2 linked regions of the Homo sapiens genome follow. The protein of the gene in region 1 purifies or fractionates together with the protein of each later gene. This does not show direct contact. Each region holds a gene or a part of one and is shown in the gene's direction. Other genes may lie near its edges.

What was found. The genes of interacting proteins can lie anywhere in the genome.
Region 2: the proteins of MIB1 (region 1) and RYK purify together in Homo sapiens (affinity purification with mass spectrometry; 2 studies listed by BioGRID and IntAct, with this or other methods). This does not show direct contact.

The regions. Positions count from the first base shown.
Region 1 is NC_000018.10:21,736,628-21,743,800, forward strand, and holds the start of MIB1 (E3 ubiquitin-protein ligase MIB1), read left to right. Parts: upstream 1-4,164; 5' UTR 4,165-4,956; coding exon 4,957-5,185; intron 5,186-7,173. UniProt on the Homo sapiens protein: E3 ubiquitin-protein ligase that mediates ubiquitination of Delta receptors, which act as ligands of Notch proteins.
Region 2 is NC_000003.12:134,240,842-134,247,869, reverse strand, and holds part of RYK (tyrosine-protein kinase RYK isoform 2 precursor), read left to right. Parts: intron 1-7,028. UniProt on the Homo sapiens protein: May be a coreceptor along with FZD8 of Wnt proteins, such as WNT1, WNT3, WNT3A and WNT5A. Involved in neuron differentiation, axon guidance, corpus callosum establishment and neurite outgrowth.

The DNA.
Region 1 (7,173 bases):
AGATGAATTGCTAACTAGAAAAACCAATTTAGAGAAGAACATAAATGACCTGATGGAGCTGAAAAACACAGCACAAGAACTTGGTGAAGCATACACAAGTATCAATAGCTGAATCGATCAAGTGGAAGATGGGATATCAGAGACTGAAGATCAACTCAATGAAATAAAGTGAGAAGACAAGATTAGAGAAAAAAGAGTGAAAAGAAAAGAACAAAGCCTCCAAGAAATATGGGACTATGTAAAAAGACCAAATATATGTTTGATTGGTGTACCTGAAAGTGACGGGGAGAATGGAACCAAGTTGGAAAACACTCTTCAGGATATCATCCAGGAGAACTTCCCCAACCTAGTAAGGCAGGCCAACATTCAAATTCAGGAAATACAGAGAACACCACAAAGATACTCCTCGAGAAGAGCAACCCTAAGACACATAATCATCAGATTCACCAAGCTTGAAATGAGGAAAAAATGTTAAGGGCAGCCAGAGAGAAAGGTCGGGTTACCCACAAAGGAATCCCATTAGAAGGGGAAGTCCATTAGACTAACAGCGGATCTCTCGGCAAAAACCCTACAAGCCAGAAGAGAGTGGGGGCCAATATTCAACATTCTTAAAGAAAAGAATTTTCAACCCACAATTTCATATCCAGCCAAACTAACCTTCATAAGCAAAGGAGAAATAAAATCATTTTCAGACAAGCAAATGCTGAGAGATTTTGTCACCACCAGGCCTGCCTTATAAGAGCTGAAGGAAGCACTAAACATGGAAAGGAACAGCCAGTACCAGCCACTGAAAAACATGCCAAATTTTAAAGACCATCGACGCTATGAAGAAACTGCATCAGCTAATGGGCAAAATAACCAGCTAGCATCATAATGACAGGATCAAATTCACACATACCAATATTAAACTTAAATGTAAACAGGTTAAGTGCCCCAATTAAAAGACACACACTGGCAAATTGGATAAAGAGTCAAGACCCATTGGTGTGCTGTATTCAGGAGACCCATCTCATGTACAAAGACACACATAGGCTCAAAATAAAGGGATGGAGGAATATTTACCAAGCAGATAGAAAGCAAAAAAAGGCAAGGGTTGCAATCCTAGTCTCTGATGAAACAGACTTTAAACCAACAAAGATCAAAAGAGATAAAGAAGGGCATTACATAATGGTAAAGGGATCAATGCAACAAGAAGAGCTAACTATCCTAAATATATATGCACCCAATACGGGAGCACCCAGATTCATAAAGCAAGTTCTTAGAGACCTACAAAGAGACTTAGACTCCCACACAATAATAGTGGGAGACTTTAACACCCCACTGTCACTATTGGACAGATCAACAAGACAAAATTAACAAGGATATCCAGGACTGGAACTCAGCTCTGGACCAAGCAGACCTAATAGACATTTACAGAACTCTCCACCCCAAATCAATAGAATATACATTCTTCTCAGCACCACATCGCACTTATTCTAAAATTCTAATATTGTTATGTGTGAATTTGAACCTGTCATTATGAGGCTAGCTGGTTATTCTGCATAATTGGAAGTAAAACACTCCTCAGCAAATGCAAAAGAATGGAAATCATAACAAACAGTCTCTCAGACCATAGTGCAATCAAATTAGAACTCAGGATTAAGAAACTCACTCAAAACCTCACAGCTACATGGAAACTGAAAAACCTGTTCCTGAATGACTACTGGGTAAATAAGGAAATTAAGGCAGAAGTAAAGATGTTCTTTGAAACCAGTGAGAACAAAGACACAATGTACCAGAATCTCTGGGACTCATTTAAAGCAGTGTGTAGAGGGAAATTTATAGCACTAAATGCCCACAGAGAAAGCAGGAAAGATCTAAAATCAACATTCTAGCATCACAATTAAAATAACTAGAGAGGCTGGGCACGGTGGCTCACGCCTGTAATCCCAGCACTTTGGGAGGCCGAGGCGGGCGGATCACGAGGTCAGAAGATGGAGACCATCCTGGCTAGAATGGTGAAACTCCATCTCTACTAAAAATACAACAAATTAGCTGGGCATGGTGGCAGGCACCTGTGGTCCCAGGTACTCGGGAGGCTGAGTCAGGAGAATGGCGTGAACCCGGGAGATGGAGCTTGCAGTGAGCTGAGATCACACCACTGCACTCCAGCCTGGGCCACAAAGTGAGACTCCATCTCAAAAAAAAAAAAAAAAAAAAAAAAAAAAAAAAAAAAAAAAAAAAAAAAAAAAAAAAAAAAACCAACAAAACTAGAGAAGCAAGAGCAAACAAATTCAAAAGCTAGCAGAAGACAAGAAATAACTAAGATCAGAGCAGAACTGAAGGAGGTAGAGACACGAAAAACCCTTCAAAAAAATTAATGAATCCAGGAGCTGTTTTTTTGAAAAAGATCAACTACATAGATAGACCACTAGCCAGACTAATGCAGAAGAAGAGAGAAGAATCAAATAGATGCAATAAAAAATTATAAAGGGGATATCACCAACAATCCCACAGAAATACAAACTACCATCAGAGAATACTATAAAAACTTCTACGCAAATAAACTAGAAAATCTAGAAGAAATGGATAAATTCCTGGACACATACACTCTCCCAAGACTAAACCAGGAAGAAGTCGAATCCCTAAACAGACCAATAACAAGTTCTGAAATTGAGGCAATAAGTAATAGCCTACCAACCAAAAGAAGTCCAGGACCAGACAGATTCACAGCCGAATTCTACCAGAGGTACAAAGAGGAGCTGTTACTGTACTTCCTAAAACTATTCCAAACAACAGAAAAAGAGGGAATCCTCCCTCCTTCGTAAAACTCATTTTACGAGGCCAGCATCATCCTGATACCAAAACCTGGCACAGACACAACAAAAAAAGAAAATTTCAGGCCAATATCCCTGATGAACATCGATGCGAAAATCTTCAATAAAATACTAGCAAACAGAAGCCAGTAGCACATCAAAAAGCTTATCCACCACTATCAAGTTGGCTTTATCCCTGGGATAAACACTTTGGGAGGCTGAGGTGGGAGGATTGCTTGAGCTCAGGAGTTCGAGACCAGTCCGGCCAGGGAAAATAGTGAGATATATCCCCCAAGAAGCTCCCCACTGCCCCCCCGCTCATCTCTGCCAAAAATACAAAAAATTAGCTGGGCGTGGTTGTGCGTTCCTGAGGTCCCAGCTACTCAGAAGGCTGAGGTGGGCGGACCCCTTGAACCCAGGAGGCGGAGGTTGCGGGGAACGGAGATGGCGCCACTGCACTCCGGCCTGGCTGACAGTGAGACCCTGTCTCAAAAACAAAGCAAAAAAAAAAACAACAACAAAAAAAACCAAACAAAAAAAATTTTATTTCAGTACATAGTAATTCCTTGGGTACATTTTACGTCCGTTTTCTTGTCTTTTCCCTTGATTATCCATTCTGTTAGCATTTCCCTCCTTTGACTATCAGGAAAAGCAACAGTTTATGCTAACAATGCATGCTAACGGTGCCAACAGTGCTGGCCTGTGGAAACACTGGTTTTAAACCCTATGCAGCATAATGTCATTTGAATAACGGCAACCAGAAACTTCTCTTACAGTCTTCGAATCTTCCTTTGAAGGTTGTATTTTGTAATTAGGGACTGAATTTTTTCGTGAGTGGAGGCAATTATTAATGAGCAAAGTTTGGAGTCTGCCTATCACCCTAATTCTGCATAAAGTCAAGACACACCTTCTAAAAGTCTTTACCGTTGCTCACAACATTCCATACCATGCTGTTCAGCTTAAAAACACACTACTAACCTGCTCTGTCTGGTTTGAAATGTTTTCAATTTACACACAAATACAGATCGCCCTGAATTTGTGAATGTATTTCTACCTTCGTTAAAAAAGAAGACTAAAAGAATATGGAATCCCTAATTCACATTTAGTTCGCCTAGGAAAACTAGCAGTTAGTGAAAAACTGGCCACATCACAGCCGCACAGCTCCAGCAGCCCGGGTAGCTTCCCCACCCTCACTTTCTCCAGCCCCGCCTCCAGGACGGCCTAACCGCTTTCCTCATAGCTCATTGGGCGCGCGGCACCACCGGGCGGCAACTCCAGGGATCCGCCCCTGGGCCCGCCCCTCCATCGCCCGGGGCTGGGGTTGGGCAACCGTCCGCCCTTTTTCTAGACCGCGCGCATGCGCACTCTCCTTGGACCCTGGAGAGACGCTTAGGGATCAGTTTTCTCCTCCTTTCTTCCCGCGATCGCGCGGCTCTCTGGAAGCCTTCCCACTCTATTATTGCCGAGGATCCCCCTCCTAGACACTCTGAGAAGGTGCCGCTCCGGCCTTGGGTACGGCGGTACCCGGATGTGGAGTCGCTCTCGCCCGGCTGGGACTCTGTGGCGGGGCGGAGCGCGGCGGCTGGTGCGGGGGCAGAGAGAAGGGGGCCTGAGGGCCCGGGCGCTCGCCGGACGCCGGGAGGTACCACCGCTGCCCACGGGGGAGGAGGCGGCGCCGGCGCTTGGGTGCCCGCCCCCGAGCGAGGGGCCGGGGTGGCAGAAAGGCCGGCAGTTAAGCTTGCTCCCCGCCGCCCCCCTCGGGCTAGCCTCCCCCGGCCCCCTGCGCTCCTCGCGCTGCCGGCCGGGGGAGAGCGTGGTTTCCTTGCGGCCGTCGCTGTAGCCTGGCCGGGGAGCCCGGAGGAAGCGGGAGAGTCCCCGCCCACGGCCCCCTCCCCTCTGCCCGCTCTCCGCCGCCGCCTCCGAGCAGCCGCGGGCCGCCCTCCACTCCGAGCGGGGGGCGCGGCGGCGACAGCTGGGCAGCGGCTTTGGGCTCCGCGGGGACCGCGCCGCCGCCCCCGTGAGTTATTCTCACGTCCCCCGGGGCTCGCTGCCGCCCCCGCCGACGCCTAGAGTCCGGCCCGGGCCCAACTCCCTCACGGGCCCCCCGGCGGCAGCGGCGGCGGCGGCGGCGGCAGCGGCGGAGCCCACCGCCCGGGCCCCGATGAGTAACTCCCGGAATAACCGGGTGATGGTGGAAGGGGTTGGCGCTCGGGTAGTGCGCGGCCCGGACTGGAAGTGGGGGAAGCAGGACGGCGGCGAGGGCCATGTGGGCACCGTCCGGAGCTTCGAGAGCCCCGAGGAGGTGGTGGTAGTGTGGGACAACGGCACAGCTGCCAACTACCGCTGCTCCGGGGCTTACGACCTCCGCATCCTGGACAGCGCGCCCACCGGTAAGCCGCGGCCACCTGGCCAGGGCTTGCGCGCGCGGGGGGAAGGGGCGAGCTGCGGTGGGCGTCGGTGTCGCGGGGAGAGGTCTGCAGTGGGACACCTGGTGGGCAGCGCCCGGCTGGAGCGAGCGGAAAGGCAAAGCGCCAAAGGAATTCTAGGTTCCGAACGGGTGAACAAACACTTTCAGAAAAGACCCTCTACCCCCAAGGGAAATGATGGCAGCACCATCACCGGGATGCTTTCAAGCCTGGAAGACACAAAGCACCGGGAAGAGAACAGACACAGGTCCCCCAACCCGACTCCTCCTCTTGGGAAGGGGTCTGGAGAGGCCTATCTAATAAGCCATTGAAATTAATCAGCCACCAAGTGATAACTGTCTGAAGGGAGGCTTGCTTTGCCATATGGTGCTCAGCTGACCGTTTATAATTGCCAAGGGGCCTTGGTACCTCGGATTTGTGGAGATGCCTTTTTTTTTTTTTTTTTTAACCTCCTGTGACACAGAATTACTTGGAGTTCAGTAGCCAAATGTTACTTGGGACTCTGGAATGATTTTTCATCCAAATTGTTCTATTTTATATCTTTATATCAATAGAGAGAAAAACATCCTGAGCTCTTGAACCATTTCTTTGTGTTAAATACTTTTTCCAAGTGGCAGATCGGCGTGGGGGACACCTGATGTTATTTTTTGTTACACTAACGTCCGTCTCAGTAAGGTGATGTCAGAATCTTACTCATTCACCCAGCAGTGAGTCAGGGTCCTTGATTAGTGAATCTTGATTAGTGAATTTTAGGGGTCTGTTATTGACGCTAGAGTTTCTAAATGATTAAACCAAAGGCTTGCTTTCACAAAATAAATAACAAATTCATTTTCATATAGATTCATCTTTGGTATTATTTATCCTTGATATTTATCCTTGATTCTGTAGAAAATAGTTCACATTTAAAATTGGGTACTTTTCAGAATTCCTAAATGAGCTACTTCTAAGACATTGAGTTTGGCAAAGCCTTACAAATCTTGGAATGGGCTCACAGTTATTATCAGTAGCAATAAAGAAATTAACACAAGCCAACTCAGTTTTTGAACAGATAATTCGTAAAATTGTGTTCCTTAGCTGGCTTTTTAAAAACATTTATTAAAAAAAATTTTTGTTTTAGAGACAGTTGTCTCGTTTTATTTCTCCGGCTGGTCTGGAACTCCTGGCCTCAAGCAACCCTCCTGTCTCAGCCTCCCAAAATGCTGGGATTACAGGAGTCAGCCACAAGGCCAGGCTTCAGATAGCTTTTTGAATATTAAAAAGGGTGTATGTACATGACTAGAAGAAAATGAAAAGATTCAACAGCACAAAAAGGGGCAGCCATTGTTACCAGTTTTTTGTGTAGTCTTGCAGAATACTCTATTGCATGGCAAGCATGTGTGTGACTATACTATAAATCTAATCCCCTTTTAAGTGCAAATGATAATAAACTATATTCACTCCTCTGCACTTTCGTTTCTTTCACTAAATTATATTGGTGATTGTTCCATTGTTTCATGGCTGCATAGTATTCCAGTGATTGGATACGGTGATTTATCTAACCAGGACTTTATCGATGGGCGTTTTATTATTTCATGTTTTCTTTACAATGATGCAGTGAATATATCCTTGTACATATATCCTTGTGTATATGTGTTGAGTATTTCTGAAGAAGTGGAATTGCTGCATCAAAACATTGCACATATTTAACATTTTGGTAGATGTTGACTAATTGCTTTTTGAAGACGTTTTGTGAGTTGAAACTGCCAGCAACAGTGTTTGAGGCCTATGCCTAATTTCTGCCTACTCTTTTTTTTTTTGAGACAGGGTTTTGTTTTGTTACCTGCAGCCTTGAAGTTTTGTTGTCGTGCTAGCTCAAGCTAAAGTCTGACCACAACCCTTATTTGGAGGAATTCTTGGTATCAGTAATTGTAGCTTTATGAGGAAATTTAAGTATCTAGGGTAAAGTGTAACAG
Region 2 (7,028 bases), on another chromosome or scaffold:
ATATTTTTAAGACAGTTTAGAGTTCCAAGTAAGAAACTTATAAATGAAGTTGATAGTGACAACTTTATAAATTGAACTAATTACCCTTGATATGAGAATAAATTGTTTTAATCCAGTTAATATATGCATATAGTTTTAAGAGAACCAAAAGGCTTTTTTTTTTTTTTGAGACGGAGTTTCGCTCTTGTTGCCCAGGCTGGAGTCCAATGGTATGATCTTAGCTCACCGCAACCTCTGCCTCCAAGGTTCAAGCGATTCTCCTGCCTCAGCCTCCCCAGTAGTTGGGATTACAGGCACGCATTACCATGCCCAGCTAATTTTGTATTTTTAGTAGAGACGAGGTTTCTCCATGTTGGTCAGGCTGTTCTCAAACCCCCAACCTCAGGTGATCACCCACCTCAGCCTCCCAAAGTGCTGGGATTACAGGTGTGAGCCACCGCATCCGGCTTAAAAGACTTTTGACAAACACAGCAGGCTCTTGCTTTTGTCTTTTTTATCCCTCAGGCTCTACTTTCCAGGGGTAGCTACTACCTCAGCTAGGTCTGTTTATTTTTTCTTCCTCTTTTTTTACTTTCGTCATTCTAAATCAATGTAGAATAAGTCTTTGACTTTCTAGTATCATAACTGAGCTCTTTCTCATTTCTCTCTTAAATCCTCCAATGTAGTTACGTAACTTTTTTGTAAAAATAGCAGTATTTACATTATTGTGTACACAGGTATTGCTAAATAGTGACTTATGATTTTTTTTATACATTTTTGTTTTTCCCACAGCAAATAATTGCATTTTATCAAAATTGCGTTTTGATTCGTTACCTATTTATCTTTGGCTGTGTTCCCTCAACTACTCCAAGAAGTATGTTAAATGCCTTTTGATTTTTTTTTTTTCCAGGTAGCACATTAAATCATCTATCAGTGCCACTTGGTTTCCTCTTAGAGACTTCTTGGTCTGGAGCATTCCATCCTCTTGCTCCAATCTAGATAGTACGATTATTTTTTCTGGGACTTCCTGTTACTTCTTTCCTGTCTTGGAACCTCTGTTTTTTAGATCTCCTGTCTTCCTTTTTCTTGGTTTGCTTCATTTTGCTACTATGTATGTATCCTCAGTAGCTTCTTAGGAAGGAATGATGGGAGATAAATTACTTGAGGCCTTGAATGTCTGAATGTATCTATCCTGTCCTCATACTTTATAGATGGTTTGGCTGAATTTAAAATATTAAGTAGAAATACATTTTTTCATAATTTTGATGGCATATTCACAGTTTTCTGTCTTAAGGGTTTTTGATGAAAAGTCCAAAGCCATTCTGATGCCTCTTTTTTTCTGTTTTTTTGAAGCTCAGGTTCTTTTTCTCTGGCATTCTGAAGTTTTATAAGTTTTTGTGTGGTTGGTTGGTTGGTTCTTTCCTTCCTTTCTTCCTTTTCTTTCTTGTATTACCTTAGTGGGTCCTTTCAATCTAGAGACTCTTTTTAGTTTTCAGAAATGCTTTTTTTTTTTTTAATAATTCCCACCCTTTATTTTCTCTCTCTCTGTGTGTGTGTGTGTGTGTGTGTGTGTGTGTGTGTGTGTGTATTTCTTTCTGAGATGTCTGTTGGTTTGGTTGTTGAACCCACTACAAATGATCTTTAAATTTTCTTAACTAATCTCATGTCTTACGTATTTCTTTGTACTGGAAGGAGTGGGAGGGGGGGAATGGTTCTCAATTTTAATGATCATGTTTTTAAATTTTAGAATCTTTTTCTGTTTCCATTTCATTGCATCTTATTTTATGGATGTATTATCTTTACTTATCTCTGATGTGTGTATTTTTATTTTTTCTTTGTGTTTAATATATTTTTAATATTTCTTCTGTTTCCTCCAGTGTGGTTATTCATTTCAGGGATCTTTTCTTTGTTTGTTTAAGTCATAAATATCTGGTGATCCTTGACTGTCTATAATGAAGAAAAAGATCCTGAGGAGCTGATTGCAGAGGAGAGAACATGTGTGTATTGGTGGTCTAGTGACTTGTGAGTTCAGGTGGACTTTTCATTGGGAGTCTGCCCCGAATATCAACACCTTTACATCTCGTTTGGGGCCAGTGTTCACAATGAAGAAATCATCATCTCCTGCCTCTGGTATGCTTGGTGATATGCCAGCTGCCAGGGTTTGGGTTACCTGGCTGAGGGAGGGATGGAGGCTGTAGCCTTCGACTTCTGGCTACAGTTCTCCTGTCACTGTGATTCAGTTTCTTCAGAAAAAACTTTGGGTTTCCTGCTGGAACTGGGGATCCAAAAGCTTTGAACACCTCTTTCGGTGGCTCCCCCCTTGTCTAGGCTAAGCCTCACATCAGCCTTTGGCATCTCCTTGGTGCCTCAAGACCTGAGCCTCTTGGAGGTCCTGAGGGGCAGTGACCATTCCTTCAAGTACTTTGCCATCTTGCAAAAGTTTGTTTAAAAAAGCATGTTGTCTTTCCTTTTCTGTTTGTCCTTATGGTTTGATGTCTTTGTGATTTTTTTTTTTTAAACTATCATTTTAGAGGAATTTTGGAAGGAAATGGAGGTAAGGGATTATGGTCATTCCACAATGTGTAAATGGCAGTTAGGGTTTGGGTTTAACTATTGAAGATGACGTGTGGCAGTCTTTTTATATGAACAATATTACGAGTAGTTAATGGTGGTTGTAGTAGTAGTTGACACTTTTAAAAGTGCTGTCTTTTGTCTGTGTGGGGCATAGAGGTCATCCCTGTGTTATGTACTGTCATTTCCATTTTATAGATGAGTGTTAGTCTGCTCAGGCTGCTGTAACAAAGTACCATAAATTGGGTGGATTGTAAACAACAGAGATTTATTTCTCACAGTTTTGGAGGCTGGGAAGTCCAGGATCAAGGCTTTGGTAGATTTGATATCTGCTGAGAGCCCTCTTCCTGGTTTATGGATACTGCTTTCTCCCTGTGTTCTCACATGGTGGAAGGGGCAAACGAGCTCCCCTGGGTCTTTTTATAAGGGCTCTAATCCCATTCATGAGGACTGCTCTTATGAGCTAATCACCTCCCAAAGGGCCCTACCTGCTAATACCATCCCTTAGTGGTTAGGATTTCAACATAGAAATTTTGGGGTGACACAGAGAAATGAGAAAACAATAATCTTAGAGTAGGTATGTATTAATGACTAGCCTGGTTTTTTGGTAGTAGTAGGGCACACGGTCCTGATGGAAGTGTATAAGTTCTGAAACACCGAAAGCTTCAGAAGCTTTTAAACTCTGGTTGGCCTTCCTGTGTTCCTGGGCCCTGGTTCATCGCTTGCATTTACAAGCCTGTTACTTGCATAACAGGCTGCAATGTAGGCATTCATTTCTGCATTTTACTGATGAGGACCCTGATTCAGGGCCTTTTGGACAGTGAGTAGAAGGCCAGGTCTTGACTCAGTCCTGCCTGAGACCTGAATTCATACTGTCTCTTTATCAGCTCTGGAGGAGTGCAATTAACCAAAAACTCAAAGAGTAGAACCGCAAGCCTCCTGCCACAGGTGCTTGTTTGTGGTCTTTATTATTATGCTAATTATTCTTGCATCCTCCCATGTTCTTTAATTGATAATTTTCATTGTACTGAGCTCTGTGGAATTCCGGAGCCTGTGAAGGTGGCATATGGCTGGGCAGTGCCAGAAGCTTGGGAAGAACATGCTGGTGGGTGGGTGGGGAATGGTATAAACTGGTTATGCCAACAGTGGTGGTGGTGATAGGGGTCAGGGGGACTTTTGGGAAGAGGCCCCATCTCCCACCAGTTAGAAATTAACTTTGGATAACTTGCTTCTCCTCTTAAAATAAATATCTTCTGGAAAAGTCAAGAATGTTCACATTTTATTTAAAATCAAGTCAATACTAGTTGAAATCACTGTGTCCCAAATCAGTCCAGAAAATTTTTTTGAAGCTAAACCAAGTACCATATATTGTGGTAGAAAATGACAATTCAAAATTATTACACTCCTTTCCCTGAAGATCTCAGAATTTTGTAGGGGAGACTTGCATTTATGACTGTAACAGAGATAAGAGTTATATTGCTGGTTGACATAAGTTATTGTAGGAGCACTTACTTTTGACTGTGGAAAGGGCGGAGGGGAGACAGGCTTAGAGAGTTTAGGAAACTTGTCCCAGGGAAAAAAAAGACATTTGAGCCTCATCTTGAAGGATGAATTTGATAGGCAGAAAAGAGCAGTTCATACCAGGCTGAGAAAGTAGTGTGAACAAAGACATAGAGGGTGGAAGCAGCTGTGTGAAATTGTGGGGTAGGAAAAATCTAATGTGGCTGAGGTGAAAAATTAGCAAAGCCATGGAGCGCCACAGGATAAAGCTGGAAGGTAGGCTGAGGTTAGAGTAGGAATTTGAACTCTTACAGGTGAATTCTTCAGTGAGCTGCTAAAGAATGCAGACTAGGAGAGTGCGCAGTCAGGTCTGGGTTATAGGGAAGATAACTTTGGCCCCAGTGAAAAGGATGGCTTTGGAGAATGAAATGCTGGATCTGGGAAATGAGATAGAGCCAACCTTGTGATGATAAGAGGGATCAACTAAGGCAGTTGAAGGGGTGGGATGGATTTGTGAGGAATTTGGTGAGTTTGGAGAAGACTTAGTAGAAGAGACTTTAGGGCTAAAGAAAGGGGAGGAGTCACAGAGGAATCTAGGGTTTCAGATTTGGGCAACTGAACCAAAGGACCCTTTCCTTTTGGGAGAAGTGGTTGGTCAAGGGAAAGAAAAAGGAGATGAACCATGTATTCCTCTCCTCCCAGCACCCCTCTCTCCTAAATCTCAGAGCCCATGCTTGGTGGGGAGGAGGGGTGGAGGGTTGAAGGTGTCCTCTGCCCATGAGTCTGGCATAACCTGCCAGAGGGCCCAGATCCTGGGTGGGTTTTTGGGAGGTTAGCACTCTGCAGCAAATCCTTAACCCTAGGCGTTTTGGTGGAGTTGGTATTTATTTGAATCCATGTGTTCTTCATTGGGAGACAGGCAGAGACATTGTGCAATTGTGGGTTTGAGGGTTGTTTTTTTTCCTCATGCTACACATGTGAGAGAACTCTATCCAATTATGGCTAAACCTGTCCCCTGTGAGTCACATCCTGAGTTGACTGGTCAATTCCAAAGGTGCTGCCTAAAATGCTGTTTGGATTTTAAGAATCACTTTTGGGACAAATCAAACATGTGAGTATTTATTCAGGCACCTGAGTTGAGAAGTTCCATAGCATTACTTTTGGTGTTTTGATGCAGTTACGCCAATGTTCTGAAAAATCTTGCCAGCTACACATCCTAAAGCAAAACAAAAACTTGTACATGAAACAGAACCATTAGCTACTCTAAAATTATGTCACACTTAAAGGTATACATTTTTGTGCGTTGTTGATGTAAATCAAGTGCAATATTTTCTAATAAAAATTTTATTAAACAGCATTCATTTGTGAAGGTCCTCTTAAAATGTGCCAAAATAAACGTGTGTGTATTGCTCAGTTACATAATAAACAGTTGTTGAATGATTCTTTTTGTGTGTTCAGCAGTGATAATGCTGAGTGGATTTCATAGGTCTCATTCTTATCTTTTTTTTTTTTTTGAGACGGAGTTTTGCTCTTGTCACCCAGGCTGGAGTGTAATGGCATGATCTCGGCTCACTGCAACCTCTGCCTCCTGGGTTCAAGCAATTCTCCTGCCTCAGCCTCCTGAGTAGCTGGGATCACAGGCGTCCACCACCATTCCCAGCTAATTTTTGTATTTTTGGTAGAGATGGGATTTCAGCATGTTGGCCAGTCCAATCTTGAACTCCTGACCTCAGGTGATCCACCCACCTTGGCCTCCTTTCAAAGTGCTGGGATTACAGGCGTGAGCCACCTTGCCCGGCCTCATTCTCATTCTTATATAAATTTTAAGCTGGAATAGACAGCACACAAGTCTCTAGTTAGGGATCACCTGTAATTTAGGGAGGAGGAGGAAGAGCGTATCTTGCTGTATGCCAGGTACTTTACATATGTTCTCTTTTATCAACCATAGGAAGTCGGTGGCATTGACTGTTTTTTGTTTGTTTGTTTTTAAACAGATAAAGCTGAGATGCTGAGGTTGTGGGCAATTAACAGAATTTGCTGTAGGTCACAGAGATGTGTGGGGCTATGTGACTCCAAAGTGCGTGCTTTCTCTACTGTGCTGCCTTTGAAGGTTGACAGTTGACTTAGTCTTTAACCAAAATCATCTGAGAAGCTTTAACAAACTACAGATTCCTTGACCTACCCTGAGCAATTTGTTGAATTGATCTGAGATGGGGCTCAGGTAAATTAACGTTTTGAATGCCATGTTTAATTAATTACAGGAGGTACAGGTTTTCCACATTTGAACGTCTCTGAAATCAGAACCATGTTATAATCAGTGGGGAGAGTCATCAGTTAATAGCTTTTTTCTTTCTTAGTGGCACAAAAAATAAGGATGTACTTTAGATTAAATGAAATATGATATTATAAAAAGGTGATACTGTAAAGGGAACTTAAATACATAGTTTGTCACCTTTCTTTTTTTTTTTTTGAGATAGAGTCTTGCTCTTTCTCTCAGGCTGGAGTACAGTGGTGCAATCTCAGCTCACTGCAGTCTCTGTCTCCCAGCTTCAAGCGATTGTCGTGCCTAAGGCTCCTGAGTAGCTTGGGACTACAGGCGTGCACCACCACGCGTGGCTAATTTTTGTATCTTTTTTTTTTTTTTTTTGGTAGAGATGGCGTTTCACCATGTTGGCCAGACTGGTCTCGAACTCCTGACTTCAAGTGATTTCCCTCCCCCACCAACCCTGTCTGGGCTTCCCAAAGTGCTGGGATTACAGGTGTGAGCCACCATACCAGGCCTCCACCTTTTTTATGTGCATATGCATGTGTTTGTCACAACTTTCAGAATTGTAAAATTCACTGGTGGTATTTATTATTTGCTTACAGCAATAGCTGTGTAGTAATGCCCTTGCAGGGAAATCATAAAATGAATGAGATATTGTCATTAGATTAAGAGCAATAGCAAGGTTACTTTTCAGCCAAGAAGCTGCAGGCAA